Linked DNA regions of Homo sapiens. The protein of the gene in region 1 purifies or fractionates together with the protein of each later gene. This does not show direct contact. Each region holds a gene or a part of one and is shown in the gene's direction. Other genes may lie near its edges. The genes, in order: CERKL, ANKHD1, PPM1G and PPM1B.

Evidence for each region.
Region 2: the proteins of CERKL (region 1) and ANKHD1 purify together in Homo sapiens (affinity purification with mass spectrometry, with the first as the bait; 2 studies listed by BioGRID). This does not show direct contact.
Region 3: the proteins of CERKL (region 1) and PPM1G purify together in Homo sapiens (affinity purification with mass spectrometry; 2 studies listed by BioGRID and IntAct, with this or other methods). This does not show direct contact.
Region 4: the proteins of CERKL (region 1) and PPM1B purify together in Homo sapiens (co-immunoprecipitation; 3 studies listed by BioGRID and IntAct, with this or other methods). This does not show direct contact.

The regions. Positions count from the first base shown.
Region 1 is NC_000002.12:181,653,786-181,661,805, reverse strand, and holds the start of CERKL (ceramide kinase-like protein), read left to right. Parts: upstream 1-4,700; 5' UTR 4,701-4,799; coding exon 4,800-5,037; intron 5,038-8,020. UniProt on the Homo sapiens protein: Has no detectable ceramide-kinase activity. Overexpression of CERKL protects cells from apoptosis in oxidative stress conditions.
Region 2 is NC_000005.10:140,537,544-140,541,143, forward strand, and holds the end of ANKHD1 (ankyrin repeat and KH domain-containing protein 1), read left to right. Parts: coding exon 1-46; intron 47-542; coding exon 543-718; intron 719-1,375; coding exon 1,376-1,540; intron 1,541-1,815; coding exon 1,816-1,875; 3' UTR 1,876-2,306; downstream 2,307-3,600. Other genes in the region: ANKHD1-EIF4EBP3 protein, read left to right, coding at 1-46, 543-718, 1,376-1,540. UniProt on the Homo sapiens protein: May play a role as a scaffolding protein that may be associated with the abnormal phenotype of leukemia cells. Isoform 2 may possess an antiapoptotic effect and protect cells during normal cell survival through its regulation of caspases.
Region 3 is NC_000002.12:27,405,751-27,414,764, reverse strand, and holds the start of PPM1G (protein phosphatase 1G), read left to right. Parts: upstream 1-5,173; 5' UTR 5,174-5,342; coding exon 5,343-5,462; intron 5,463-9,014.
Region 4 is NC_000002.12:44,163,975-44,172,647, forward strand, and holds the start of PPM1B (protein phosphatase 1B), read left to right. Parts: upstream 1-4,900; 5' UTR 4,901-5,300; intron 5,301-8,673.

The DNA.
Region 1 (8,020 bases):
GAGCAGGTGGGCAGGAATTGGACAACATGGTGTCTCATATGTCATAATAGAAGTTTGGATTTTATTCTACCTGCAGTGAGAAGTTCTTAATAAAAAAAAAATTCTATAAACTGGAGTTTGAGAAAGAACTATGTTGATGATAGCATAAGCCCTCAATCACTTGTCACATAAACTCCAAACTTCAGCAGAGACTCAGGGAGATCAAAGGGACTACCACAGGATTACCCACTGGCTAAAATTCAGATCCATGGCAGTTGGTCCTGACTGGAATTAGACTTCCTTGTCTGTTGCCCTCATTGCAGTGGGTCTGAATGTCTCTGTCGGCTGTGAATTTTTCTCCCTCTATCTGTGGCACTGAGAAGGTGGCCCAGACTTCCAGAGTCTGTCTCATTGGCCTATTACTTGGGGATTTGCTGCCCTTCTTCTGGAAGTTTGGGTATTTGTTTTCAGAGCATACTTAAAGGCCTCCTGAAAGCAATGTTAACAATAGCAGGATATATTTTACAGTCTTCTACTCAGACTTGGATTTTTAAGAACCAGGGATGGAGACTGTGTTTCCAGATCTAGTCAAATCCCTTCCAAACATAAAGCAACAAAGTGCCTTTTAAACTAGGACCTGTACTGTTTAATGCTCTGGAAACAAATACCCAAGCTTCAGCCAAAGGAGGGAAAGCTATGTTCAGGAAGCTTCCTGAAAGTTTTTTGAAAGCAATTTTCATGCATTAGTATTTTACATATATATATATATATATATACACACACACACACACACACATATATATAAACATATATATATATACACATGAATCACTAATGAGACAATTGATCTTCAGGAACTAACGTGAAATAATTGGGGTATCTTGGTATTATTGTTATAGATAAATGTTGAAGAAGTTCATTCTTTCAGATATTAATTGAGCACTTACTGTGTACTAAGAACTGTGATAGATACTGGGGATTTAATGGTGAACAAGATAAATTCTCTGCCATCAGGGGGCTTATATTCTAACAAACTTAAAATTTACTGAGTGTTCTCTGTATTTCAGTATTGTTACTAAGTACACTAACTTAGTGGGGAAGCTAGACAATAAACAAAGAAGTATGTAATAAGAATTAATAGTAAGTGCTGTAAAGAATACTAAAGCAGGTTATGGTAGAGAGATTAATGGCAGCGTGAAGATGTCCATGTTTCAATCCCCAGAACCTGTGAATATGTTACCTTACATAGCAAAAGAGGCTTTGAAAACATAATTAAGGGTTATCTGGGCAGGCCCAATGTAATCATAAGAGTCCTTATCTAAGACGGGGGACAAAGGTCAAAGACAGAGGAAAAGAGACGATTTAAGGATAGAAGCAAAGAGGAGAGATGTTAGACTGCTGGCTTTGAAGTTGGAAAAAGTGAACATGAGCCAAAACAAACAAAACAGAACAAAACAAAATCCACAGGTGACCTTTAGAAAAGGGGTCCCCAGTCTCTGGGCCATGGACCAGTACCTGTCTGTGGCCTGTTTGGAACCAGGCTGCCCAGCAGGCGGTGAGTGGTGACTGGTGGACAAGCAAGTTTTACCACCTGAGCCCTGTCTCCTGTCAGGTCAGTGGCAGCATCAGATTCTCATAGCAGCCTGAATCCTACTGTGAACTGCACATGCAAGGGATCTAGTTTGTGCTCCTTATGAGAATCTAATGCCTCCAAAATGCTCACCCCTTCAAACTGCCCCCATCCGTGGAAAAACTGTCTTCCACAAAACCAGTCCCTGGTGCCAAAAAGGTTGGGGACTGCTGCTCTAGAAGCCAGAAAAGAGGAGATATATTTTCCTCTAGAGCCTACAGAAGGAATATATAGGCCTGCTGGCACCTTGATTTTAGTCCTGTGAAACTGATTTTGGATTTCTGACCTCCAGAAATGTAAAACAATGCATTGGTTTTGTTTCAAGTCACTAAATTTGTGGTAATTAGATACAGCAGCAGTAAGAAATGAATACACAGGTTTACAGGATGGTGAATTATGGAGGGTGCTCAGGAATGGCCTCTTTGAGGTGGTGGCCTTTAAACAGAAAAATGAGCAAAGTGAAAGAATGAACCATCTGGTGGGGAGAAAAGCATTCCAGTCAGAGGGAACAGCAAAAGCGAATGCTCTGAGAAGGGATTATTCTTCTCAATGTGTTTGAGGACTGGCAAGAAGGCTTTGTGTGAATGAGCAAGGGGAAAAAGTTAGTAGGTGATCTCGGAGACATAGCCAGGGTCCAGATTATAAAGGACCTCTCGCCTTGCTAAGCATTTTGACTTTATTCCAAGAATAATGGGAAGTCAATGGAAGGCTGTGAGCAGGGTTATATGCTCTCGTTATTTTTTAAAGGCACAATGTAACTCCAAAATGGAAAATTGGCTCTGGGCTGGAGGTGCCAGCACAGGGGAAACCGAAAGCAGAGAGCTGGGTTGGGAGAGCGGAGACTGAAGTTGTCCAGCTGAGGGGTGCAGAAGTGCAGACTGCAATGACAGCAGGCAGAAAGGACTATATGTTCTAGACAGAATGGACAGGATTTGCTGGTAGATTGGATTGAAGGCATGAGACAAAGGAGACATGGATGATATCAAGGATTTTGATACTACAGATTTGAAACATTCTGAGAGGGACAGGTTTGTGATGGAAAATCATGAGTCTGGTTTTAGATATGTTTTAGAAGCTTATTGGACAGCCAAGTAGAGATGTCAGGTAGGGAGCTGGACATAATACCTAAAGTTCAGGAGAGTGGTTGGAGCTGGTGACATCATTTGCAGAACCCTGGATGGTACATAAAGCACGGGACAGTGTGTGGATAGATCCTAAAGAGAGCCCTAGGGCACTCCAGCCCTGGAAGAAGGCAGCTTATCAAAGGAAAAAGAAAGAAAGAAGGAAACACAATCCTTATTACTTCCATCTTCAGGACAATTCAAAGCCAGTGTTTTTGACTTCCTGGCTTGAGTGAAGCTTGAAAAATGGCAACTTGCCCCTTTGCAAAGCTCCTAAGGAGTAGCCATTGGCTTGGCCTGTTTGCACTGGCTCTGGGTGAGCTTTTAAAATGCCAGTGAGCTCTAATTGTGTTGATTGCCTAACAGCTGTGAATACAAGATGCTGACTCCAGAACTGCAACTCATTCTGCGAAGGGCACCGTCCTTTTCCCTCTAATGACTGCTGAACAGAGCCACCTGAAGCCTGCATGGGGTTTAGCAGCAGCTGCACTTCTGCTCTAAGAAATAGCTCACTGCAGTCAGATCAAACTGAAGCTCTTCCTTGCTTTTCCTCGAAGCTTGGGTACTTATTGTCGGAGCATTAAACAGTAAGAGTCCTAGCTTAACTGGTGCACAGTGCTTTATGTTTGGTAGGGATTTGGTTAGGCCTACAAACCGTCTGAGCTAAGAACCTTGAGAAACTCCTGCTATAGTTAGCTCTTTCTGTGACTCTGCAGTGTGACCAGGAATGAGGACAGAATTAAGAATTTGCTGCCTCTATGATAGAACTGTTTAGGCACTAGAACACTGGAACTAGATCTACAACCCTATGAATTTAATTTCCTTTTCAACTCCCCTACTCCTTCTTTTCAATATGATGATAATGATCTTGTTTAAAAAAAAAAAAAGCCTTCTGCTTTACTTCCCACTCTGCTCCTCTTCCCAGGGACTCACTTTCTTCCTGACTGCTTCCCCATTACAAGTACTCAGCTCCCTGTTTTATCACCCTGCTTAGAGCAGCCATTATCAGCCTTGGCTGAACATTGGAATTACCTGGGAACTTTTAAAAATCCGGAAGTCTGGGTCTCGCCTCCAGAGATTCCAGCTTAGTTGTCTTGAGCGTGGCCTGGACATTTGGGTTTTCAAAAGTTCCCTATGTAACTTTAATGTGCAACCACAATTGAGAATCACTAGCCTCCAGACTCTCTGTGTTATCAAAATTAATGAGCAGCTGATTTTAGAAATCTCAGTTATCAGGAGAAAAGGGTGAACCCCCCCAGGGCTCTTCTCCTTTTCCAGGTGACACTTCTTTATGGCAGTGCGTGAAAGTGAAGCCCTGCTGCTTGTAATCTCCCTCAAGGGAGTGCAAGATCCAGGCAAAGACAAGACTGCAGAGGCGCTACCTTGGGGGAAAGTAGGACCCTAAATACTTACACCTGGAGGCACTTACCTTTAATACTGAATTTGTCAGATGCAAATTTGTCTATGCAAACCAGGGCCTTATCTCTAGCTTCCCCTCAGGGGTTTTGGGAAGTGCGCTACTACTCTGAAACAGGGTTGTAAAGCGTCACCTGTGCTCTCCAGGGAACCCTCTGGAAAGGAGGTGGAAAAACAGAGGCTTCCACCCTTGCAACTCTAAGTGTGTTCCTTGGCCAGTGGGATCCATCACCTAGTATTTTCTTAGATATGTGGTATCTGGGGGCCAGTCCCACACCTATGCAATAAGAATCTCCATTTGAACAAGATGCCCAAGCGATTATATGCAAGTTTAAGATTGAGGAGGGCTGGTTTAACTCGAGGGTAACGAAAAGTACGAAATCGTACTTTACAGGAGAAGCTAGGCGGAGGGAGCCACTTATTCTTCCTCTTGCAGCTGGGTCTTTTTGTGGTGAGTGGCGAAGCGGCGAGGCTGGCAGGCCAGGGTGCTGGACTGGGTCAGGCGCGGCCCCGCCTCCCTCCTGGGTCCCTGCCCTGCGCGCCGTTGCTGTGGCAGCGCTGGACGCGGCTAGAGCTGGGGCTGCCGCGCCCTCCACCTCCTTCTCCAAAGGCCTCCCCGGACCCCTGGCTCGGGCCCAGCCTGCGACTCCGCCATGCCCTGGAGGAGGCGCAGGAACCGGGTGAGTGCCCTGGAGGGCGGCCGGGAGGAAGAGGCGCCCCCGGAGGCTGCCGCTGTGCCTCCGGCGCTGTTAACGTCCCCGCAGCAGACGGAGGCGGCGGCCGAGCGGATTCTGCTCCGGGGCATCTTCGAGATCGGGAGGGACAGTTGTGACGTGGTGCTGAGCGAGCGAGCACTGCGGTGGCGGCCCATTCAGCCCGAGCGCCCGGCGGGTGAGTGCCCGGCCCCAAGCGTCTTCGCCTCCCTCCGCGCTTCCTCCCTCTCCCCGGCCCAAGGCCTACACCCACGAGCTTTTGCTCCACCCTCCCCTTTTCTCGCCTCCCCTCCCCGTGCTCGCCTCACTGCCCGGACAGGTTACCGAGTCCCCAAGTCGCCGCCTCCTCCTTCCCAACTGGGAACTCACGCCTCTCGCCCCATCCCAGAACCCCCAGGGATTCTTTCGCTACCTAGCCTTTTCCCGCCTCCGAGACCTTCCCCGGGCAAACGTCACAAGCAGCTTTTGCTCAGAGTCTCAGCAGAAAATCTTGAGCCCCAAAGGGGAGGTAATTTACAAATGTGAGAAGGTCAACTACTCCTCCCCTCCAAGTTGAAAAAGTTTTAATCCATTAACTTTGATGGTACATTGAAACTATAAACATCTCACAGATTATGCCTACACAAGAGTTCTGAATCCAACTCTCATTTTGCTGACTTGAAAATGTAACTCCAGAGCTTTGGGAGTGTTTCTGGGTTTTTTTCTGCCCCTCACCTTCCTTGCCATTGTCTAGAATTAAGACTTCTTCAGGCTCGGTCTAGAAACTTTTGATTTTTAATATTGACCCTAGATTATTGGATCACAGTTTTGCGATGCTTAGTTACGTCAAGCGGTTTGCTTAACGTTTGCCTTTTATTGACTTAAAATTTTAGTTACCTAAAAAAGTTATAATGCTGTAGTTTACAACAAATACTTCGAGTCTATTTTCACGTCTTAGTCAAATAGCCTTATAGACTTAACAGATATTTTATAAAGACCATTTTGCAAGTCTTATAAGTAGACTTTCATATAGTCTTATTTCTAAGTCCAAACTCGAGAAATACTCCCCATTGTTGAATTAGCTTAGATGTGAGCGGTGAAAGACAGATGAAATGGGGGAGGAACTACATCAAGGTTACTCTACTTGCGAGGAGATGACTTGGGGGAGATGGAATTTGGTATTCAACCTCTTTTAGCTAAATACAAATTTATGAAATTAAAAAAATTGCCTTCCCCTGTTGGAAAACAAGACACAGTGTGGTATTTATGTTACAGAATAGACTCACTGTCTTAAAGTCTTGCTCAAAAGTCTAACAAAATGAAACCAACTAGCCAGGGATTCAGCACTGGTTGCGATTGTGAATTCTGCCTGTGCTGCATGTGCCATGCTCGCTCGCTTCACGAAAACAGTCTTTGACCTTAAAGTGTTTTCAGGTGTTTTAAAAACCAAGGTGTAGTATTTTCTTGAACCTTTTAAGTTAAAAGCTAGGGATATAGCTATGGAATTATTTGTAAGTCTTTCAGGCAATTCGAGTTATGCAATATAGAAGTTTATAATTACAGTTTGGATTAGCCCAAAGAGCCAGTTTAACCTACAGTGCAGCTGAAATGCTATAGAATTAAAATGAGACATTGTGCAATGAGAGGTCATACAAACCAATGTTGCAGTATTTGTGTACAAAAAAAGCAAACAATGACATGAGAAAAGAAATGCTGTTTTATATTGAGTGGTGATTAAGGTAAAATAGGTTTAATTAGTGCACCCCTGGCAGTAGAGTTTAAAATACATCTTGACAGATTTGTAACTTTAAAGGTTGCAAGTACTGATTCTTTGTTTAATTATGCCCTAAAACCATTTGGTGGTCTTTTCCTTCATACAGGTGTACCCTTTTTCTTTGTAATTAATACCTGGTATTCAAACCACTTTGGGCCTCTAAAATTGGGGGCACAGAAGCCTAGAGCCTTAGTAAGTACTTCTGTTTATGGAAGAAACCAAGAGATGTTTTATTTAGGTAAAATATAGCCAGGCGTGGTGTGTCCCTGTAATCCCAGCTACTTGGGAGGCTGAGGCAGGTGAATTGCTTGAACCTGGGAGTTGGAGGTTGCTGTGAGCGGAGATCACACCACTGCACTCCAGCCTGGGCAACAAGAGTGAATCTCCATCTCAAAAAGCACAACAAACAAACAAAAACAAACACTGGGAAATAAGAAGGAGATATTAAGAGATGATATATTTAAATGTTAGAAATGCTCTGTTGTTGAATAAGCTTAGATGTGAGTGGTAAAAGATTAAATGGAAGAGGGAGCTACATCAAAGTTACTGTACTTGGGAGGACATGATATGGTAGGATGTGGTGGGGGGAGAGCATGTCCATTGCTGGTTGGCAAGTGACTGGCTGCCTCAGAAAAGGATGAGGGTGGGTAGGGGAGATCACTGGAGATTATTAGAACATACGTATGTTTTCAAGATTGCTTAGTTTTTAAACCTCATAGTACTTTGTTTTCACTGATGAAATAAAATACTATGTGATCTTTTTCTAATTTTCCATCTTGAGTAATAAGCAAAGACATTAATGTATTTTATGAAGGCTCTGACTGCCAAAATTGGGACAAATTGATGGTCTTGTTGGCAGGGTAAATGAGCATAACCGTAGTAATTGTAGTTCTTTTTATTGGGTTCAGGGATGACCTGGAATAATGGATGTGTTATTACCCTTCCCTGTAGAAGTGAGGCTTTCGAAAAGAGGCTATAAGTCAATTTGGGAGGCACAAAGTATCAGCGCTTTTTGGGGATTTTTTTTTTTTTTAAGTAGAGAAATATTTTAAATGTGTGATATAAAGTTATGCATGTGCTTCTTAAGCACATTAACTCAACCAGATCCAACAGCTGGTCTAATAACTTTTTAATTGTTTAAAAAAATTTAATTGACACATTGTAATTGTATATATTTATGAGATACTATTTGATGTTTTGATATTTACGTTGTACAATTATCCAATCAAAGTAGTTAGTTATCCTTCACCTCACACTTTCATTATTTCCTTGTGGGTTAGAACATTCAAAAGACTCTCTTCTAGTTATTTTGTAATATATAGTATTTTACTGTTAACCATAGTCACCATACTATGCAACAAAACACCAGAATTTATTCTTCCTACCTAGTTGTAACTTTGTGTCTTTT
Region 2 (3,600 bases), on another chromosome or scaffold:
GTTGGACACAGTGGAATCTGGTCATTTGGTGTCAATGCTGTGTCAGGTACAATTGCCTTGCTCTCTCTCTGGAGGGATATCTTAAGTAAGCTGTAGGTTTGCCATTAAAACTTAGTTCCTTAGAAAAAACAAACAAAAAAAACTTAGTTCCTATGTTTAACACTCAATTAGGGAAGGGTGTTTATATCTTTGAGGAGTTCAGTCCAATTTCAGAGTCTGGAATATTGGTTGAGGTAATACATAGAGTTAATCAGAAACAAAAGATTCAAAGTGTGTGTCCTTTCTCTCTTAAATAATCATTTGAGTTCTTTCAGAGAGTACTTAATCTTTTAAAAGACAGGGTAAAGTGGAGTATTCAGAGGACTTTACCTAGTTTTTCAGGAACTGGTTTTTTTTGGCTAGCAAGACTGTGATAAATACGCTTTGAGCTCTTCAGAGGAAAGATTTCAGTAACATTTGGTCATGTTTGGTAATAACAATGGTAATGTTTTGTTGTTTTATCCAAATAAATTTAAAACTTTGTTTTCAATTATTCTTTCCAGAAGGCTTATCAGGTTGGTCGCAATCTGTGATGGGGAACCATCCAATGCATCAACAATTATCAGACCCAAGCACATTCTCCCAACATCAGCCAATGGAGAGAGATGATTCTGGAATGGTAGCCCCCTCTAACATTTTTCATCAGCCTATGGCAAGTGGTTTTGTGGATTTTTCTAAAGTGAGTTGACAAACATCACTGTAACTTGATTGACACTTTGTCAGCCAATGTAGTCACATTAAGGAATACCTTGTATTGAAATAATGCTCCCTTTTGTTTCTGTGGCTTTGCTAGATCTTTTGCTTAATTTCAGGAGTGCACAGAGTTGTCCACAGTAGTTTGTCCTGAAGATGTCCCCATCCCCCGAAAACACCTGAGGGATTTGGGTTTTGCCACTTTGTGCTCTGCTACTACAGCTTTGAGGGAGGCCTCTACCCCTCTTAAAAGCTGGCCATGAGTTCACTGATGCTTTCTTGTCTGCTCTGACAGCTTTATGTCGGCAATCAATTATGTAGAGTTCCCATTTTCTTCTTAGCTCAAGCTTATTCATGAAACTAAAATATGGGAAAGTTGAGGTTATTTTTATCAAATATGAGAAATTTCCTGATGATTTCATATTGGATTTAGTTTCTTTCTCTCTCTTGTTTTTTGTTGAAAAGCTTTGCAGATGCAGATAAACATTTTGTTTTCTCAACACTGCCATACTGTACTTATAGGATCTTTTGGAGTTCTTTAAATGAGGAATATTAGAGAAGTCTAAGCTGGTATTATGGGATTTATAGTAATTTTATAATTTATAGTAATTTTAAGATTAAATCTTTTTTCCTGCTGTTTTAGGGTCTGCCAATTTCCATGTATGGAGGCACCATAATACCCTCTCATCCTCAGCTTGCTGATGTTCCAGGAGGCCCTCTGTTTAATGGACTTCACAATCCAGATCCTGCTTGGAACCCTATGATAAAAGTTATCCAAAATTCAACTGAATGCACTGATGCCCAGCAGGTAAAATGGGCTTAATGCTCTTTTGTTTTTTAGATTTGTCACATCATTCTTTTTGTTTTGTGAGAAGTATAAGTACTGAATATCAAAAGTCATAATTGACCATTTCGATCTGGATTGCTTTTTCAATATCAAGATGATGCTACTGAACACTTTATTTAATATATGTGTATTCTTCCTAGGCAGAAACAGTGAATTGCCATTGCATTTATATATTCATTTTGTAACTGTCTAAAGATTCCTAATTAGAAATTCCAATTTTTCCTCCCCCTTTTCAGATTTGGCCTGGCACGTGGGCACCTCATATTGGAAACATGCATCTCAAATATGTCAACTAAGTTAGAAGGTCTTTACTCTTTAGCCTTGTTTAAGAAACCTATGACCTTGGAAGAACCATGGGGATTTTTTTTTAATGTGCCTAAGAAATTTTCTCTGAGGCTTTAGCAATGGAAATTTGATTGCCCATTGTATAAGAACAAATTGATTTCCTATCCACCTGATTATGTTCTCTGGTTAGTTTAGCCATTTTGAACTTAAGATCATATGACCTTAGTGCTTTTGGCTAAACATACAGAATACTACTTGTATGCAGAAGAGAATTAGTTGATTACATGTTTCAACCTTTTAGGGTGATAAATACATGTATAATTGTTTACATACTTAAAAGGAAAAAGTTGAGTAAATTTCTTGTCATATAGTGGCTCTACGTAATGTAGCCTGTATTAATGTGAAATATTTACCAGAATATTCAATAAAAAGATGAACAGTCTTTAGAAGTGGGGTGTGATCCTTTCAGTGGTCATGCAGGTACCACTCAATCCACATTATATTGAACCAGATGGTTAATACTATATTTGTAACAGGCTTCTCACATTTAACACTTGAGTCCCTTCTTAGACTGCCTTAAAAAAGCACTTTTAAGACTATTTACCTATTTATTCTGTGTTAAACATTCCTTGTTCCCTTGTTGTCTTCCATAATCCTTTAACATATGAGAAAGTTTCAAGCTCTGGCAATGTGTCTTATCTGACTTTAGCTAGCAGATAGGCCACTGATAGGTTTTTTCTCTATGGATCATGAGAATGTCAATAAGAACAATTGGATTTAAATCAGATGACACTAAACAAATGTAGGGACACCCAAATTATCAACTTCAGGTTCCTTCTGTGCTTCCTGACCTTTTTTATCTGAAAGATTTGTCTGGTTATAGATATTTTAAGCTTTATATGAGTTGGGACATAAGGAGGTGACTCCTGTCATTCTGTTGTATTATTGAATCAGCTGAGTAATATTTATAAATATGTGAGTAATTCCAGGCTTAGTTCCATGGCCCTAAGCATGGAGAGTCAATATGTTTAACAAGCTAAACAGAGGAACCCTGGAATGGGCTGCTTTGGCCAAACCATAGGCTATGCCGAGAATCAGCATAGAGAAGGAAAAGTTATCCCACTGAAAAGTATAGTCATCAACTTATTTGTGTTTTAATATAGCTGAATTTTTCCTGGTCAGTATAGGCAATACAGAAAAGAAAACAAGAAAATGTTTGGAGCTGATGGAGAAGCCAAAACTCATATCAAGGCAAAGAAGGATGCACAGAGAAAGAGTAGTAACTAGGGACAGAACTATATTAGCAGCACCTTTCTACGCTTATGCCAACAGGAATTCTTAATTTTCTCTGCCCAGGTCCTAAAGCCAGGACCACATCAGACACACCATGTTTGTTCTGTGTCAGATATACCTGCTTCTTTAATCTTCTATATCATCTTACATATGAGAAAGCTTCCTTAATTAAGCTTATGTCTTATGTTTTGTTTTGAATGGATTTTGAAAGTGTTGTTTATTGAAGCTACTACTTTGTAGTGATTGATAACCACATCAAGTATCATTAAGGGGCCCCTTGACCTTTGTGGGGGCAGTTGGGTGGGGCACAAAAGACTCCTTGGATCACCTGTGTATCTTGCTGTTTCCACTTACCATTAACAGCAACAAGAAAAATCACCTAAAATTGGTGAAATGAATGAAACTACTCTTGATGAAATATATACTAGTGAGAAATAATATTA
Region 3 (9,014 bases), about 150 Mb from region 1:
CACATTATACTCTAAAGTTAGAGCATTTAATATATATATATATATTTTTTTGAGATGGAGTCTTGCTCTGTGGCCCAGGCTGGAGTGTAATGGCGGGATCTCAGCTCACTGCAACCTCCGCCTCCCAGGTTCAAGCGATTCTCCTGCCTCAGCCTCCCAAGTAGCTGGGATTACAGGCGCCTGCCTCCACGCCCACCTAATTTTTGTATTTTTAGTAGAGGCAGAGTTTCACCATATTGGCCAGGCTGGTGTCGAACTCCTGACCTCAGATGATCCGGCCGCCTCAGCCTTCCAAAGTGCTGGGGTTACAAGTGTGAGCCACCACGCCCATCCACATTTAACCTTTAAGGCAATGTCTCCCAGGCTGGCAACATTCCCAGAGATCTATAATTACATGCCTCAGGGTTCATAATTTCTTTTTTTTTTTTTTTTTTGAGACGGAGTTTTGCACTGTCACCCAGACTGGAGTGCAGTGGCGCAATCTCGGCTCACTGCAACTTCTGCCTCCCAGATTCAAGTGATTCTCCTGCCTCAGCCTCCCAAGTAGCTGGAATTACAGGCATGTTGCCACCATACCCTGCTAATTTTGTAGTTCTAGTAGAGACAGGGTTTCTTTTTTTTTTCTGAGACAAAGTCTCGCTCTGTTGCCCAGGCTGGAGTGCCATGGCACGATCTCAGCTCACTGCAACCACTGCCTCCTGGGTTGAAGCGATTCTCCTGCCCCAACCTCCCAAGTAGCTGGGATTACAGGTGTGTGTCACCACGCCCAGCTGATTTTTGTATTTTTAGTAGAGACGGGGTTTCACCACGTTGGTCAGGCTGATCTCGAACTCCTGACCTCGTGATCTGCCCGCCTCAGCCTCCCAAAGTGCCGGGATTACAGGCGTGAACCACCGTGCCCGGCCAGACGGGGTTTCACCATACTGGTCAAGCTGGTCTTGAACTCTTGACCTCAGGTGATCCACCCACCTCAGTCTCTCAAAGTGCTGGGATTACATGTGTGAGCCACCATGCCTGCCATAAAAACCCTTTTTTCATGTGGACTAACACCTCAAGTACATGTTCAGGAGCTGGCTCTATTACCATGTCTGATTAGCCAGATTTTTGCAGCTCATACTTTAAAGACAGACTCAGCATTATCAATCGATCTATGAATATAGTATTGCGTTTTGGGTGTTTTTTTTTTTTTTTTTTTTTTTTTTAGACAGAGTCTTGCTCTGTCACCCAGGCTGGAGTACAGTGGCGCGATCTCGGCTCACTGCAAGCTCCGCCTCCTGGGTTCATGCCATTCTCCTGCCTCAGCCTCCCGAATAGCTGGGACTACAGGCGCCCACCATCACGCCCGGCTAATTTTTTGTATTTTTTAGTAGAGACAGGGCTTCACCATGTTAGCCAGGATGGTCTCGATCTCCTGACCTCGTGATCCACCCGCCTCGGCCTCCCAAAGTGCTGGGATTACAGGCGTGAGCCACTGCGCCCGGCCTTTTTTTAAAATTTTTTTTCTTTCTCCCTTCTAGTCAAAGCATGAAACCTTTACGTCACTGGAAATATACTGTAGTGACTTTGAGGGGAATAGGATGGTGAGGGGATAATCTTCATACTCTTTCTCCTTTTTCACCTCTTTCCATGATCCCCCTTAGTATCTATCTCCCCTCTCTGTAACATTATTGCTCTCCCAGTGCGTTACTTTTTCCTTGAGTCATATTGTGTGTGTGCGTGTGTGTGTTTATATAGTATTTTTAGTAGAGAGAGGGTTTCACCATGTTGGCCAGGCTGGTCTCGGACTATTGACCTTAAGTGATCCGCCTGCCTCAGCCTCCCAAAGTGCTGGGATTACGGGCGTGAGCCACTGTGCCCAGCCTCGAGTTATATTTTCTTTTCCACTTTTTTTCTTGTCTGTTTTTTTCCCATTTATTTTCAGGCCACCTCCTATTTTTTGTGAACACAATTAAATGTGGCTTCCATTCCATATTTAGCGTGTATGTATGGACACTTAAACAGCAGTCTTTTGTTGAATAATATACAACATTTATGGATAACTCAGCACTTTACATTCAATTCCTCTTATCCTTAAAGCAGTCTTGAAGAGTAGATGCTGTATGTCTGTCTTGCAGATGAACTTAGCCTAAGAGGGAATAAGTAACTTGTGAAAGATCTCATAGGTAATATGTGGCAAAATTCATGCTCTTTAAACAATGTCACATTCCATTCTTAGGAAAAAACAAAGTCCAAAAAGAAAAAAAAAAAGAAAGAAAAAAAAGAAGGCGGGCATAGTGGCACATGTCTGTGGTCCTGGCTATTTGGGAGGCTAAAGTGGAAGGATTGCTTGAGCCCAGAAGTTCAAGACCAGCCTCAGCAACATAGCAAGACCTCATTTCTTAGAAGAAGGAGGAAGAGGAGGAGCAGAAGGAGAAGAAAGAAGAGGCTGAGTAATTTTTGTTGTTGCTGTTTTGTTCATTTGTTTGTTTTTTGAGACAGGGTCTCACTCTGTCGCCCAGGCTGGAGTGCAGTGACACCATCTCAGCTCACTGCAACCAAGGCTGAGTAATTTTATATGCTCCCTCTACACTGCTTTGGTCAGAGATCTCATCTAGGTTCCTGGCAACCTGCAAGCCTAATTAACATCTTTTCCACTTTCATGGCTTAACTCCAATCTAATATTTTCAATGTTTTTATATTAGTTGTCACCCTAAACTGAACCACTGTTTTCCCCCCAAAACTAGCATCCCCTCAAACTGCACCTTTTTCTGTTAATGGCTCCACCACATTTTGTTATGCAGAGTCAAAATCTTGGTGTTATTCATTCATTCAACAAATATTTAAATATTATTCAGCACATACAACTTTGCAAGGGATGCTGGAAAACACAATGGTAAGTTTAATGGAACTTCTGCCTTCATAAAGGCTTATATTCTATCAGGAAAGACAAACAAGTGTGGACCCAAACTAGTATAGTGATAGTAGAGATTTCCTGGAGAAAGTGATGGTCAAGAGGGGTGTGGAGAGGTGTGCTCCATGGGTAAAAGTGTAAGAGAAAGCATGGCTTTAGATGCACCCAAAGACATTGCTGAAGCAGAGTTGTAGGAGAAATGGAGAGTTAAAGAGAGGCATACGTGAATCTGGATGATTAGCATGAAGGGTCTTGTAAACTATAAGGAATTTGGACTATCGGAAGAGCATGAAGAAGCCATGATTAGTTTTATCTTTTTAAAGAATCTTTTTTTTTTTTTTGAGACGGAGTTGCTCTGTCACCCAGGGTGGAGTGCAGTGGCGCCATCTTGGTTCACTGCAACCTCCGCCTCTGGGGTTCAAGCTATTCGCCTGCCTTAGCCTCCCAAGTAGCTGGGATTACAGGAGCGCACCACTACGCCTGGCTAATTTTTGTATTTTTAGTAGAGACGGGTTTCACATGTTGGCCAGGCTGGTCTCGAACTTCTGGCCTCAAGTGATCCACCACCCCCCCTTGGCCTCCCAAAGTGCTGGGATTACAAGTGTGAGCCACTGTGCCCGGCTGAAAAGAATCAATTTTGTCATAGTTTGGAGAATTTCTCCTTTTCTCTCCATCCCTTGAATGCAATTTATTACCAAATCTGTCTTATTTGTTATTGTCTAATTTGTCCTTTCATCTGGATTCCCATTGCCACCCTGCGTGGTACCACCTTACTCCCAGCTCTTCTCATCTCCTGCTTAGAGTAAGAGCTCTCTAACTAGTAGCAGTGCCCCAGGCCAGGCGCGGTGGCTCACGCCTGTAATCCCAGCACTTTGGGAGGCTGAGGCGGGTAGATCACGAGGTCAGGAGTTCGAGACCAGCCTGGCCAACATGGTGAAACCCCGTCTCTACTAAAAATACAAAAATTAGCCAGGCGTGGAATCCTAGCTACTCGGGAGGCTGAGGCAGGAGAATCGCTTGAACCTGGGAGGCGGAGGTTGCAGTGAGCCAAGATAGCGCCACTGCACTGCAGCCTGGGCAACAAGAGCGAAACTCTGTCTTAAAAAAAAAACAATAGTAGGCGGGGTGCGGTGGCTCACGCCTGTAATCCCAACACTTTGGGAGGCCGAGGCGGGCGGATCACGAGGTCAGGAGATGGAGACCATCCTGGCTAACACGGTGAAACCTCGTCTCTACTAAAAATACAAAAAATTAGCCAGGCGTGGTGGCGGGCGCCTGTAGTCCCAGCTACTCGGGAGGCTGAGGCAGGAGAATGGCGTGAACCCGGGAGGCGGAGCTTGTAGCCTGGGCGACAGAGCGAGACTCTGTCTCAAAAACAAACAAAAAACAACAACACAACAGTGCCCCAGACTCTCTCCCTCCAATGTACACTGCATACAAAGACTAGACAAACGATGCCAAAGGTTACACCAGGACGACAATGAAGTCCAAGTCACTCATCTTGGCGCTTCTTTTTATCAAGCTAGCTAGTTAATATTACCACTTACAATCATTCTCCGAGTCCAGCCAGCTTCCTCAGAAATCCTCCCCAAATGCAGTTCACATTCTTCCCTCACTCCTCCAAACCTTATAACATTATTCCCTTTTCCTGTGGCATAATGCAATCCAGAGGCATCCTCTCTGAGAGCCTACATCCTTTCAATCCTCCAAGAAACAGCTCCTCCTCCCATCCTTGAGCTTTTCCCACCCAGAATAGGCTGTACCAAACATTTCTACATTGTATTAACTCGAATTATATCACAGATCGAGGTCTTCGCTTTCAGAAAAGACTCACATTCTTCTCATATAGGCCTCGCATGGCCTGGCCAAGTACTTCCTAAGCTCGGAACAAATACTGGTCAACTTTAATTGAACCAAATCGGGCGGGGTTTGCGGAGTCTGAGAGTGCAACGTTGGGGAGAGGGGGATGAAAACACTGGAGGACGGGCTGAAAGCGTCGAGTCCGACACAAAAGAGGCGTCAGACAAAACGCCAAGAGGCTGGGGACTGGGAACGAAGGAAGAGGTTCTGCCAGAGGCGACCTGCCACCTGCGCGAGGAAGCGGAGTAGGACGGCGGCCGTTGGTGGGCGTGGTCGCGCTAGTCTCGCGGGAGCGGCCGTTGGGCGGGCCGTTGTCCCTGCGGGCGGGGCGAGTTGCTAAGGAAATGACTGCCCGCAGCGCCTGGCCCCGCCGCGCAGGCCGGGCGGGGTCTGGAGCGGCGCCGTTTCCGCTTCCGCTCCCTCACAGCTCCCGTCCCGTTACCGCCTCCTGGCCGGCCTCGCGCCTTTCACCGGCACCTTGCGTCGGTCGCGCCGCGGGGCCTGCTCCTGCCGCGCGCACCCCCGGGGCTTCGGCTCCGGCACGGGTCGCGCCCAGCTTTCCTGCACCTGAGGCCGCCGGCCAGCCGCCGCCATGGGTGCCTACCTCTCCCAGCCCAACACGGTGAAGTGCTCCGGGGACGGGGTCGGCGCCCCGCGCCTGCCGCTGCCCTACGGCTTCTCCGCCATGCAAGGCTGGCGCGTCTCCATGGAGGTGAGGAGGCAGGGGCCCATAGGCTGGCCGCTGCGGGGCGGGAATCTGACGGAGAAAGAGAGCGGGGGATGGGGTCCTCCCCTGGGAAGGGTCCCAATTGGGAGCCTGCGGCCGCAGCGGCCGTTTGCGGGGCGACAGAGACCGCGGGGTCAGGGCCGAGAGGGAGCTCCCGATGCTTGGGGACCGTGTGCCGGTGGCCAGTGGCGGCGAGGGCTCGGCCATGTGGGAAGAGGCACCTTCCGCCCACTGACCGCCCTCTCCCCGAGCTTTGGCGCCATCCTCTCGTGCCAACCTAGCCCTCCAGGCTCATCAACGGTGTGAGGTTTAGTGTGGGAGTAAAGACGCAAATAGGGGCTATTTATTCATTTGTTTTTCAAGGGAGAGGTGAATAGATGTGAATAACTTTTTAAATTTTAATATTTAAAATATCTGATGTGGGAAGCCTCTTTTGGCTAGGAGTTTGACAGTGAAAGGAACCCCGGGCAGAGTCTGTTTCACATTTTGGTTGCCTGGCCTTGGGCTCTTGCATGTTAATTTCAGAGGCTGGACCCGACCTCCAGGAGTTGTCACTCATTTGCACTCTTTTCAGGGCCTTTTACTAACTTCGGAAAACTTGAATTATGTCAGTCCCTAGGTTTTCCTTTTTATTATGCTTCGTTTTCTTTCTCTCTTAGGATTTCTCTAAAACTTAATCAGTAATTCTCATTTGCCTGTAATTGTAGTTTATAGTTTCTTTGATTGTAAGTCATTTCATCAATTTTTTTCATCACAACCTACCTACAAAGGGCTTTTCTAGAAAATTTTACTCTGGACAAAAGGGGAAAAGAAAAATATTGGGGGGAAAGTAGTAGTATTAGGTAAAACTTGATGTGAAACTACAAAAGAGAAGAGGGAAAACTGCGGTAGGGAGGAAAGGGAGGAAGACGGGTTAACCGTGGCTTTGTGAAGAGCATTCTGAAGTCTAGGCAAAAGGGCCAGGGAAATACTCTGTCTGGTATTGAGGGTTTCTCCACCTACCGGGTGGGCTTCAGGTAACAGCGAAATACTGTCTCCCTTGGGAATTGTTTCAGATCCCTCGCTCCTCCCTGTGGTTAGCTCTGGAATGACAGTATGAACTTAAATGTTTTGTTTTCCGATTCAAATTTTATATTCATAACTGACCTTAATAACAATTTTATAATTAGGTATAAAATTTCAGGATTGGAGTGTATCCTATAGTTCATCTCATCTGCTTTGGCTCCCTTTTTTTTTTTTTGAGACAGAATTTCGCTCTTGTTGCCCAGGCTGGAATGCAATGGCGCGATCTCGGCTCACCGCAACCTCCGCCTCCCAGGTTCGAGCAATTCTCCTGCCTCAGCCTCCCTAGTAGTTGGGATTACAGGCATGTGCCACCACGCCTGGCTTATTTTGTATTTTTAGTAGAGACAGGGTTTCTTCATGTGGGTCAGGCTGGTGTTGAACTCCTGACTTAGGTGATCTGCCTGCCTCGGTCTCCCAAAGTGCTAGGATTACAGGCATGAACCACCACACCCTGCGGCTCCCACATTTTATAGCTAAGAAATTGAGGCCCAGAAAGGTTAGGACACTGTTTTGGTGGAAAGAATTTGTAGGATCAGATCGTTGAAGACACTAGACATTGTTAATCATCTATGTCAAACTGAAGCATAGCATTCATATTTCACCACCATACACAGTATAACTATTTGGTAGATGTAATTGTCTATTAGAAATATCTAGGCTGGGCGCAGTGGCTCACGTCTGTAATCCCAGCATTTTGGGAGGCCGAGGCAGGCAGATCACCTGAGCTCAGGAGTTCGAGACCAGCCTGGGCAACATGGCAAAAACCCTGTCTCTACAAAAAATACAAAAAAATTAGCTGGGCATGGTGGCACCCACCTGTAGTCCCAGTTACTTGGGAGGCTGAGATAGAAAATCACTTTGAGCCTGAGAGGCAGAGCCTTCATTGAGCCAAGATCGCCCCTCTGCACTCCAATCTGGGTGACAGAGCGAGACGCTGTCTCAAAAAATAAATGAATAGGCCAGGCATGGTGGCTCATGCCTGTAATCCTAACACTTTGGGAGGCTGCGGCGGGCGGATTGCCTGAGCTTAGGAGTTCGAGACCAGCCTGGACAACATGAAGAAACCCCGTCTTTATTAAAATACAAAAAATTAGCTGAATGTGGTGGTGCGTGCCTATAATCATAGCTACTTGGAAGGCTGAGGCAGGAGAATCGCTTGAATCCCAGAGGCGGAGGTTGCAGTGAGCCAAGATCGTGCCACTGTACTCCAGCCTGGGCGACAGAGTGAGACACTGTCTCAAAAAAAAAAAAAAAAAGAATAAATAAATAAATCTGGGTATAGTTTCGTAGGAAAGTCTTTTTGTAAAGTAGGTAGTCAAGAAGTTCCATTTCCATGGCATTTTCTGTTAACGTTGTGAGATTTGAGGTGAATATTCCATCTCGCAGTAAAACGTTTCTTCCAGGTTTCTCATTTAATATTTTTCACTTCTCTGCTGTTGTTTTTTCATTTCTTTGGTACCCTTCTTTCTACTTTTACTTACGGATTGAGTTGCTTGGCTACTCAGTGTTTCACGTTGGTTTGCCCAGTGATTCCATACTATTTGCTGCTTCTCTGTAGGGCATTTCCCTTTATTTTTGGTTTCTCCTCAATTAGAAAATGATTTTTTTTGTCAGGGACGGTTTAGTGTGTAGAGATCTTACTAGACTATTCCTTACATCCTAATCTTCCTCCTGAGAGATAACTGCTTAGGGTATTAAAATCTTGCTAATGTGCTGTTTCTGAAGTTGCCCTTGTTTGAATAAATATGCCTAATCAATAGTTAAATATGCCTAATCAAATCCTCTTGAAGAGTATTGTTTGGGATCCTATTCTGCTTCATTGATAGTGTTCCTTCTGGCTTTTTTTCTCTTCAAAGTGTAGCATAGTTTCTTTGCTATTGCAAGAAAATAACTATGAGTTCTAGCCTCTTCCCTGAATCTTATCTTTCCAGAAAATATAAAGTACTCCCATTCCTCTGAAGCTTTAGGGCTTAATCCAAAAATTAATAAAGTTTATTTACCCTATTTGCTTGGTCCTAATGCTTCATTTGAGGTAAGGTTATCATACCACTAAAGGTTGTTGACATGCTGACTGATGGATAGATTTAGCCGTAGAGAGGACTCTTGAGACAAAAATGGCAATCATCAATAGCTGGCATTTTTACTTTCTGCCTGTTTCAAGCTTCTCTTCCTGTGTGACCAGGGTGTTGTTGTTGTTTGTTTTGTTTTGTTTTGTTTTTGAGACGGAGTTTCTATCTTGTTGCCCAGGCTGGAGTACAATGGCATGATCTCGGCTCACTGCAACCTCCGCCTCCCGGGTTCAAGCGATTCTCCTGCCTCAGCCTCCTGAGTAGCTGGGATTACAGGCATGTGCCACCACGCCTGGCTAATTTTGTATTTTTAGTAGAGATGGGGGTCTCTCCATGTTGGTCAGGCTGGTCTCGAACTTCTGACCTCAGGTGATCGGCCCGCCTCTGCCTCCCAAAATGCTGT
Region 4 (8,673 bases), about 140 Mb from region 1:
GGTGATAGCTTGATCAACTTCCTCTCTAAGGAGGAAGCAGGGTTGGGGGACAGGCCCAGGCTTCAGGTCGTAGAACTGAGAAAAGGAAAAATGTCCAGCAAACTACTTGAGATCCTCCAAATGCAATTCAAGAAATACTTATCAAGCATCTATTGTGTATGATTTACAACAAAAGAAACGATGTCCTTGCTGAATTGGAGGTTATAGTCCACAGCAGGGGTACGACCTCCTCCATGCCTTTTTTTGGGCAAAGGGTCCCTTTGGTGAATCCTGTGGATTTCTTCTCAGAATAACATTTAAAAATACATAAAGCTCATTAAGATTATAAAGGAAAACCAATTATAATTAAAGACAGTTATGAAACAAGTACATTTGTGATATGCTTCTTTTTTTTTTTGAGACAGAGTCTCACTCTGTCACCCAGGCCAGAGTGCAATGGCATGGTCTCGGCTCACTGCAACCTCCGACTCCCAGGTTCAGGTGATTCTCCCGCCTCAGCCTCCCGAGTAGCTGGGACTACAGGCACGTGCCTCCACACCTGGCTAATTTTTGTATTTAGTAGAGACGGGGTTTCACTAGGTTGGCCAGGCTGGTCTCAAACTCCTGACCTCGTGATCCACCCGCCTCAGCCTCCCAAAGTGCTGGGATTACAGGCATGAGCCACCACGCCCAGCCTATGCTTCTTTATTAATGCATGAAATAACAAGATCTAGTGATGAGTATAATAATTATAATAATTTCAAAAGAGTGGTGAGTATAAATGACATCTAAAGAGATTGTGATGCTTGGTAAAGACTGGGAATCTCTGCTCTAAGCAACTTGTGACCTCGCAGTTCCCTGATTGTTTGGGCTCCCTTGCAGCTAGGGGTGATCATGTGATTTCCTCACCCAACTTTTTCTACATTACATTTAATATTGTTTTTATTTAAAACTATATATTGGGGAATGATTTGCATTACTAAGAGACTCTAAAACTCTTCATGTGGCTCTGGAGAAAGATGTTACGATTCCCATTTTGCAGAACAAACCAAGGCTCAGATAGCTTAGTTACTAGCTCAAGTCACACAGCTAGTTCGTAGCAGAGCACATTATGATGGTACTCAGGGTTTATGACACATTATGTTTATGATGGTAAACAGCAGTTTTCAAAGTTGTGACTCTTGTTGGGCTTTCTTTAATGGTTTAGTATTTTAAGCAAATAAAGCATACAACAAAGTTAACCTTCAAATCTGTTCTGGGGTGTCTCCATACTTTTTTTTTTTTTGCTCTTGGTGATTGAAAGTATGAATGATATGGAATTATCAGCCCACCTAAATGACTGAGCTTTGTATTTGTTTTTGGGTCAACCAAGGGAAGGTGAGAAGGAAGTCAAGCAAGCCAAGAAACTGTTCTCATGCCTTTCTGTAGTTGCTTGTATTCACAGGACAAGGGTCCCTAAATGTCTTCAGTTTTTTATCCTTAGCATGGTTCCCATTTTAGAAGCTGAGGTCTCAGACTCCCTTCTGCTTACATAAGGGGTGTCAGGCAATGGAGTGTGATTAAAGAAAATTTAATTTTTTTATAAGTCACTTCAATAATACTTCCTGCGGACTGTATGATCTCACGCTGATAATAAAGGGGACAGTGGAAATGTGAGATATACATATGTTCTCCCAACATGCAAAAGTGAGGAAATTAATTTACTTTACATCTGCCTCCATTATCCTGTGCCAGAGGGTCTCAAACATTGATGCGCATAAAAATCATCTGCAGGTCAGGTGCGGTGGCTCACGCCTGTAATCCCAGCACTTTGGGAGGCTGAGGCGGGAGGATCACTTGAGGTCAGGAGTTTGTGACCAGCCTGACCAACATGGTGAAACCCCGTCTCTACTAAAAATACAAAAATTAGCCAGGCGTGGTGGTGGGTGCCTGCAATCCCAGCTACTCGGGAGGCTGAGGCAGGAGAATCACTTGAACCTGGGAGGCGGAGGTTGCACTGAACCGAGATTGCACTACTGCACTCCAGCCTGGGCGTCAGAGTGAGACTCCGTCTCAAAAAAAAAAAAAAAAAAATCATCTGGGGAGCTATTTTAAAATTCACCTTTCTGAGCCTTGTCCCCAGAGTCCCTGATTTGTAGGCATGAGTGGACCTGGGAATCTCTATCCCAGAATCCCAGATGATTCGGATGCTGGTGGTCTATTCACCATGCTGTAAGAAACACCATTCTCACACAAACTTGATGAGTAGGTTTTAAAAATCTGAATTGCAGAGGCGGAGCCGCCACCCTGCCGCGACTTTCAGTCTCCGACCATGGCCTCACGCTGGTGGCGGTGTGCCCGGCTCCCCCGGCCTTGCAGGGCCTCCAGGGCCGCGCGCCGCTGCCGGCGCCCGCGCTCAGGCTCATAGGCGGAAGGGATTCGGCTTGTCTCAGATACCCTATTTTAGTCTTGTGAAGCGCTTAACATCTGCCTGTCCAAATGTATACAGTATATCACGGTTTTATCACACAACCCCGGACAGTAAAACACACAGTGGTGAGAAATATACAGATCACCGATCCTTTCAAATTCGGTTGCAGAGACTTGAAAGGTCTGTATGAGGACATTAGAAAGGAACTGCTCATATCAACAACAGAACTTCAGGAAATGTCTGAGTACTACTTTGATGGAAAAGGAAAAGCCTTTCGACCAATTATTGGGGTGCTAATGGCCCGAGCATGTAATATCCATCATAACAACTCCCGATCCGATGTCCAATTTTCACAAGCTGATTGCTGAGAAGGTTCTAGGCGGCGTCTGTTAAAAAGCATTGCTGTCTGTTAATTTGACATGTGCAAGCCAGCCACCGCGCCATAGCCTTAATTGCAGAAATGATCCACACTGCTAGTCTGGTTCACGATGACGTTATTGACGATACAAGTTCTCGAAGAGGAAAACACACAGTTAATAAGATCTGGGGTGAAAAGAAGATACGGTTTTTTGGTTTTTTAAAATCTCTCTTACCGAATCACATGCTTTTTGGACCGCGTTTGCTTTTTCAGATTTGTCTTATTAAAAAGTAAAATATGCTTGCTCAAAAAACAAAAAAACCCGAATTGCAATTAAGTCTTTGTTTCTGCCGTCCTTATGACGGCCTGGACAATTGTCCTATTACTAAATTTGCCCTTTTCTATAAAACATTGACAGCCCCTAACCTGAATAGCACTCTGTTGGGTCTAAGCTTAAATTGTCTGCCCAAACCATTTTACACCAAAGTAGGAAATAGGTTTAAGTTCTTTTAGGACATTCGGATTAAAAAAAAAATATATATATATATATATATCCTAAGGTAAGTATTAGAATACCTCTATTACACTTTTGTTTCTCGTTTGGAGAATTAACATGGCAGCATCGTCTAATTTGATAGCTGGAGGAGTCATGTCCACTTTCCCCATCGGCCTGTTAAACCCCTATCATTCATTCTTGACTCATCCTGTGTCTTTGTGAAGCCTTTCTTGGTAAACCTATGCACAAGGAAGACCCTTTATGTCGTCACCAGCCCTTGTGCATGTTTCAATTGTAGTACCTATCATCTTGTACTGCGATTGCCTAATTTATTTTTGTATCTCCAGTTCTACATACAGTACCTGGCAAACAGTAGGCGCTCAATAACTGCGAAATGAACAAGTCCATGTCAAGAGACTAGGCTGGGAGTTTTAATATCAATGCCGACTGAGAAACAAAATACGGAAATGTCAAGGGCTGGTATAAAAATAATCTCTAATAGCACAAAATCCTCCTGAAGGGAACACCTGTCCCACTTTCTCACGTTGCTTTCCAGGTTCTTCCGACACCCCAATTTCCCGCCCACTCTTCTCCCTCCGGGGTACAGGTCAGGCAGGTATCCCAGCTCGGCGGCTCTGATAGGTCGGCGATGATTTCATTGTTAGGGAACATCCGGGCCTTTCCCCTCCCCGCAACACCTCCCCAGAGCCCGGCCTTCCCAGTTTCCCACTCTCGCCTGCGCCCCACCCGCGGCTGAAGCAAAACAACCGCCTCTCCCCTGCCCACTTCTTGTCCTCGTCTGAGTCGTCCCTTCCCGTCTCCACGCCGAAGAGAGGCGTTTAGATCCTCCAATGAGGGCCTAGGAGGACTTTCTTAGCCAATCAGTAGCCAAGCCCCTGCAATTCCGGGTGGGACCAGGCGTCCACACCTATAGCTGGACTGCTCGTTGGTCCCTTATGGCGCTTCTTTTACGCGAGGCTTAGAGGTCAAATACAAGGGGGCACGGTCCTCACAGAACGGAAAGGATCCGTACAGACTCTCCGGGTTTGACCGTTTTCTAGGACGAACCAATCGCTTTCCAGATACTTCCCCGCCTTTTGCGCGTTCATTTGAAAAAAGCCGGTGTGACGGACTTGGAAATTGGCTCAGTGACTGACCCGCAAGAAAGCCAGTGACTGGGGGTTCGGATCACGAGTTGGACCAATAAGAAAAGACAATCGCTGGGGCCGGGGCTTTGCTAGGAGGAGCGCAGGTGGGCGTTATTTGATTGACGGAGGGCTCTACTTATGGCTGGTAGCGGGGGCTGGTCCCTGACGTTCGGGAGGTAGGACCTAGCGGAGGCGGGGCCGAATAAAGTAAATGGTAATAAAGGGTTGGGTCTCACTTAGTGGGCGGTGTTTGATGGACAGCTGACCTTGCCTATTGAAAGTAGCCACTGATGCCCAATGGGAAATTAGAAACCCAGAGGCGGGGCCGGGTGGGCGGGGTAAACGAAGTACGGAGGTGCCGAGGGAGCAGCACGGGGAGGGGGAGCGGTGATTGACAAGACTCCCAGCAAACCGGGGGCCGTGAGAGGGCGCGCGGCATCCCAGTGGGTGGCAGCTGGAGGCGGGGCACCCTGAGGGGCGGGGAAGGACTAGGGTGCGGGGAGGGGGTTGCAAAAGGAGCCGAGCGGCTTCTGCTCAATGGCGGAAAAGCCGCCGGTGCTCTGACGGCCTCGTTCCCCTAGCAGTTGCGGGGGAGTTTCCTGCCGGCGCGGCTGGAGTCTCTGATTCTCAGGGTTCGGTGGTTGGAAGATGCTCCAGAGAGACGAGGCTGCGGCGGAGGAGGTGGCGGCGGCCGAATCGGCAACGGCGCTAGGGTGGAGAGAAGGCGGCATCGGCGGCGGCGGCGGCGTGAGGGGCCGGGCGGTGTAAACAGCCCCGGAGGCGGCGGTCGAGACCCCGAGGGGGAAGCGGCGGCTGAGTCAGGGTCGCGCCTCCGTTGGAAACTTGGGCTGAGTACCGCGGCGGGCGCGAGCGAGGCGCCCTAGACATCTTCTCCCTCCCTTGCCTCAGGTAAGGCCGCCCGGCACCCCGCCGGAGGGGAAGCGGCTGACCGGCCGCGCCGCCGAGGCCCCGGGCCCTGGGCAGGTTTTCGCGGTGCTGCCGAGCCGCGGCCGGGGCCTCTGTCCTTCCGAATCCTCGCTGCTTTCCCTGCTGCCGCGGAGCCTAGGCAGGGGAACGCCGGGCCTGGCTCTCGGGTATAGGCCCCTTCCCCGGCCGCCGCCTCCGCTGGGCTGAGGTCTGGGAGAGGCGCAGGGAGAGAATGGGAGTTTGCTGGAACGCCTGGAAGCTGACTGATTCTCTCTTCCCTCCGCTTCAGTCTGCAAGCATCTCTTTCACACGAAAGCACTGGGGCTACCCCAAGCCTTGGCGCTTCTCTTCCTGGTGCATGCCCTGTTTGAAAACACTATCTTTTACCATTCGTTTCCTCATCAGCTTCTGCCCTACTCTGCGCTCCACTTCACTTCCTTGTTAAATCGTCTTTCTCTGCTGTCTATGCGTTCTACCCTCGCCTTCCCTCCTTAGTGGCTTTAAATTGTGTGTTTCTCTTTTCTTCGTACCCCGGCATCTCTTGCCTGTCTTCCCTAGCACCATCCTTTTCGGATGTCATTCCTAACAGTGAAGTTCTTAATTGAAACTGCCACTTATTGTCAGTACCCCAAATCTACCGGAGCCCCATTAAGAGTATAGACTGACTAGCCATATGTGGTAAATCAGTTTTTCATAGTTTAAGCCTAACAACCTTGAAAAAATTGTATTATTAAACGTAAAGTGTGAAAATAACACCGAAAATAATTTTTTAAATGAAGGACTCAGTGAGTGTTGGAAATAGTTATTTCTTCATTTTTTAAACTTGCATGACCTCTCATATCAGATTTAGCAGATCTGGGACGTTTGCCCATCTTATTCGGCAAAAAAAGTGCTTCTTAGGCGTTTGATAGCAGCCCAAATTCATCAATATTCAATTTCTTCTAAGAACAACTTGAAAACTTTTTTAAAAAGAGACGTTAATAACTGGGAAGTTGTTTTGATAGTCACAGTTAAAGAGCTTTTAAAATAGGCTCCACATGTTTAATGTATCAAAATAAAGTTGGCAGGCATGTTGTAAAAGGATTATTTAGGAATTTGAGTAGTCTTAGTGTTATGTAGCTATTTTAGGAAAAACATTCTTTTTCTGTTAACAAACGTTTACAACTACGGTGATGTGAGAATTACTGAGGCTTACTGTGGGATTAACACAGGAACTGTCTTTATTTGAGCTACTGCATGGATGAAGAAGTGGTAAATTGTTCAGAGTAGACAGTGTAAGTCACAGTATGTTCTAGGAGATGGAGAAACATGCCATGGACGCTGAATGTTAATAGATGTTATTTCATTTACTTTCTCTGTTGTGCAATAGCAAAGTTCCTATTGTTGGCCTACTTTTAAATGGGGCATTTCTAAGTAAATAGTGAGACAAGTTATTCTAATTATTATGATAGTCTTTTCCAAGTGTACAGGCCTTTTAAAAATATAGTTGAAGTAATGGTAATTTTTTAAGGAAATGTTTTTGTAGGTCTGCCAAATGGACAGTGTGTTGTTCTAATCGAAATTTTAAAATTAAGTATTTAGAACAGAATATTTTAGTCCACACATTTTCAGGGATAATCTTTATTTTGTGCTTCTTCTCTCAATGCCTTCTTTGTCTTTTTTTTTGTCTTAATGGTTGTTGTGTTTTCGCCTCTTCATTTGTTTTTGCTCTCATGAAGTCTTACAACAGTTTCTGCAGTGGTTCTTTTTGTTGCTGTATATTAGCACGAGTATTTTTATTTGAGCTTTCATACTGTAAGATTTCCCCAGTTTCTAGTACATTATCCTCTGGATTTGTTGAAGTGATTGTTCTCTTTGAAGTGACCAGCAGAGCTTTCAACACCGTTTTCTTACACTGGGTGTCTGATTTCTGTGAAGACTCTAGGAATAGGTGAAAGGCCTTTCAATTTAGTCATGTCAGTAAATACTGTTTTATGTTAGTAATTCACCTAATTACTAAATTCCTTAAGATTACATCATCTGAAGGAATAGTGTAGTGTCCAAGTAACTGTGCTTCTAAGAACAGCTGATTCACAGGTTGACAGGGTCAGAAAAAGTGGCTCTTGTTGAAAGTTATCTTTTCTATAACAAACATTTTTTATGGAATCTTTTGAATTAAAATATGATGCTGATTATGTCTTGGCAGTCTTGGAAGCTTAGAATTGGCCACGGTATCACTTAGTGATTGTGGTGATTCATTAAAAAGAGGCTATATAGGCCAGGTGCGGTGGCTCATGCCTGTAATCTCAGCACTTTGGGAGGCTGAGGCGTGTGGATCACTTGAGGTTAGGAGTTCATGACCAGCCTGGCCAACATGGTGAAACACCATCTCTACTGAAAATACAAAAATTAGCCAGGTGCGGTGGCGCGTGCTTGTAATCCCAGCTACTCAGGAGGATGAGGCAGGAGAATCACTTGGACTCACGAGGTGGAGGTTGCAGTGAGCCGAGATTGTGCCACTGCACTCTAGCCTGGGTGCCAGAGTAAGACTCTGTCTCAAAAAAAAAAAAAAAAAAAAAAAGCTGTATTTCATGAATATTTTTATATGTAACTATTTTAAAGTATTTTGTGACATTACCTAGCATAGAAAGTAGTTAAGTAGTATAATTCTAACTCTCGCTTTTAAAAATGCAACATACAGTATTTTATATTTTCTGTGAAATATGCCTTTCACAATTCACTGATTTTAGTAAAAATTAGCAAACAAATAACTGGTGGCATCAGAATAATAAAAGTTTGTTTAATCCAAAATTATAATAGCAAAATTTATTCAAGTAATAGCATAAAATGTGAAATCATGATTATGGTAAGATAATTTTCAGGAGTATGATATTCCTGAATTTTCAGTTATTCTTCACACTGTACCTGATTTCTTTTTGTTTTTCCCTTGCTGAATTAATTTCAGAATTGGAATGAAATGGAATACTGCTATTATATTAGCAGCTTTAAAGTTTTATTGTAAAATGTATCGTATATTAGCAGAATTGATGGTTAAGTGTACTGACATTTCACTATGCTATACTCAAACATTGATGGTGAAATAGAGTTTTGGGAACTATTTAATTTTTGTAGTTTGTAGTTGGCTGTCATAAAATTTGCAGAATGACAGAACTGATCATCAGCTTCTAGTGGCTGATCTAACAAGAACAGGTGAAGAAAAAGGTACATGAGCTTCATAATGTGTATTTTTTCTTTGTTTTTGTTGGTGTTTACTTACATCAATACATTGAGTTAAAAAAATGGGTTTTCATCTTTTGGATTAATTTAAGTATGCTAAAGCCATTTTAGAATCTTTACAAGTAAAATGTTTCTAGGC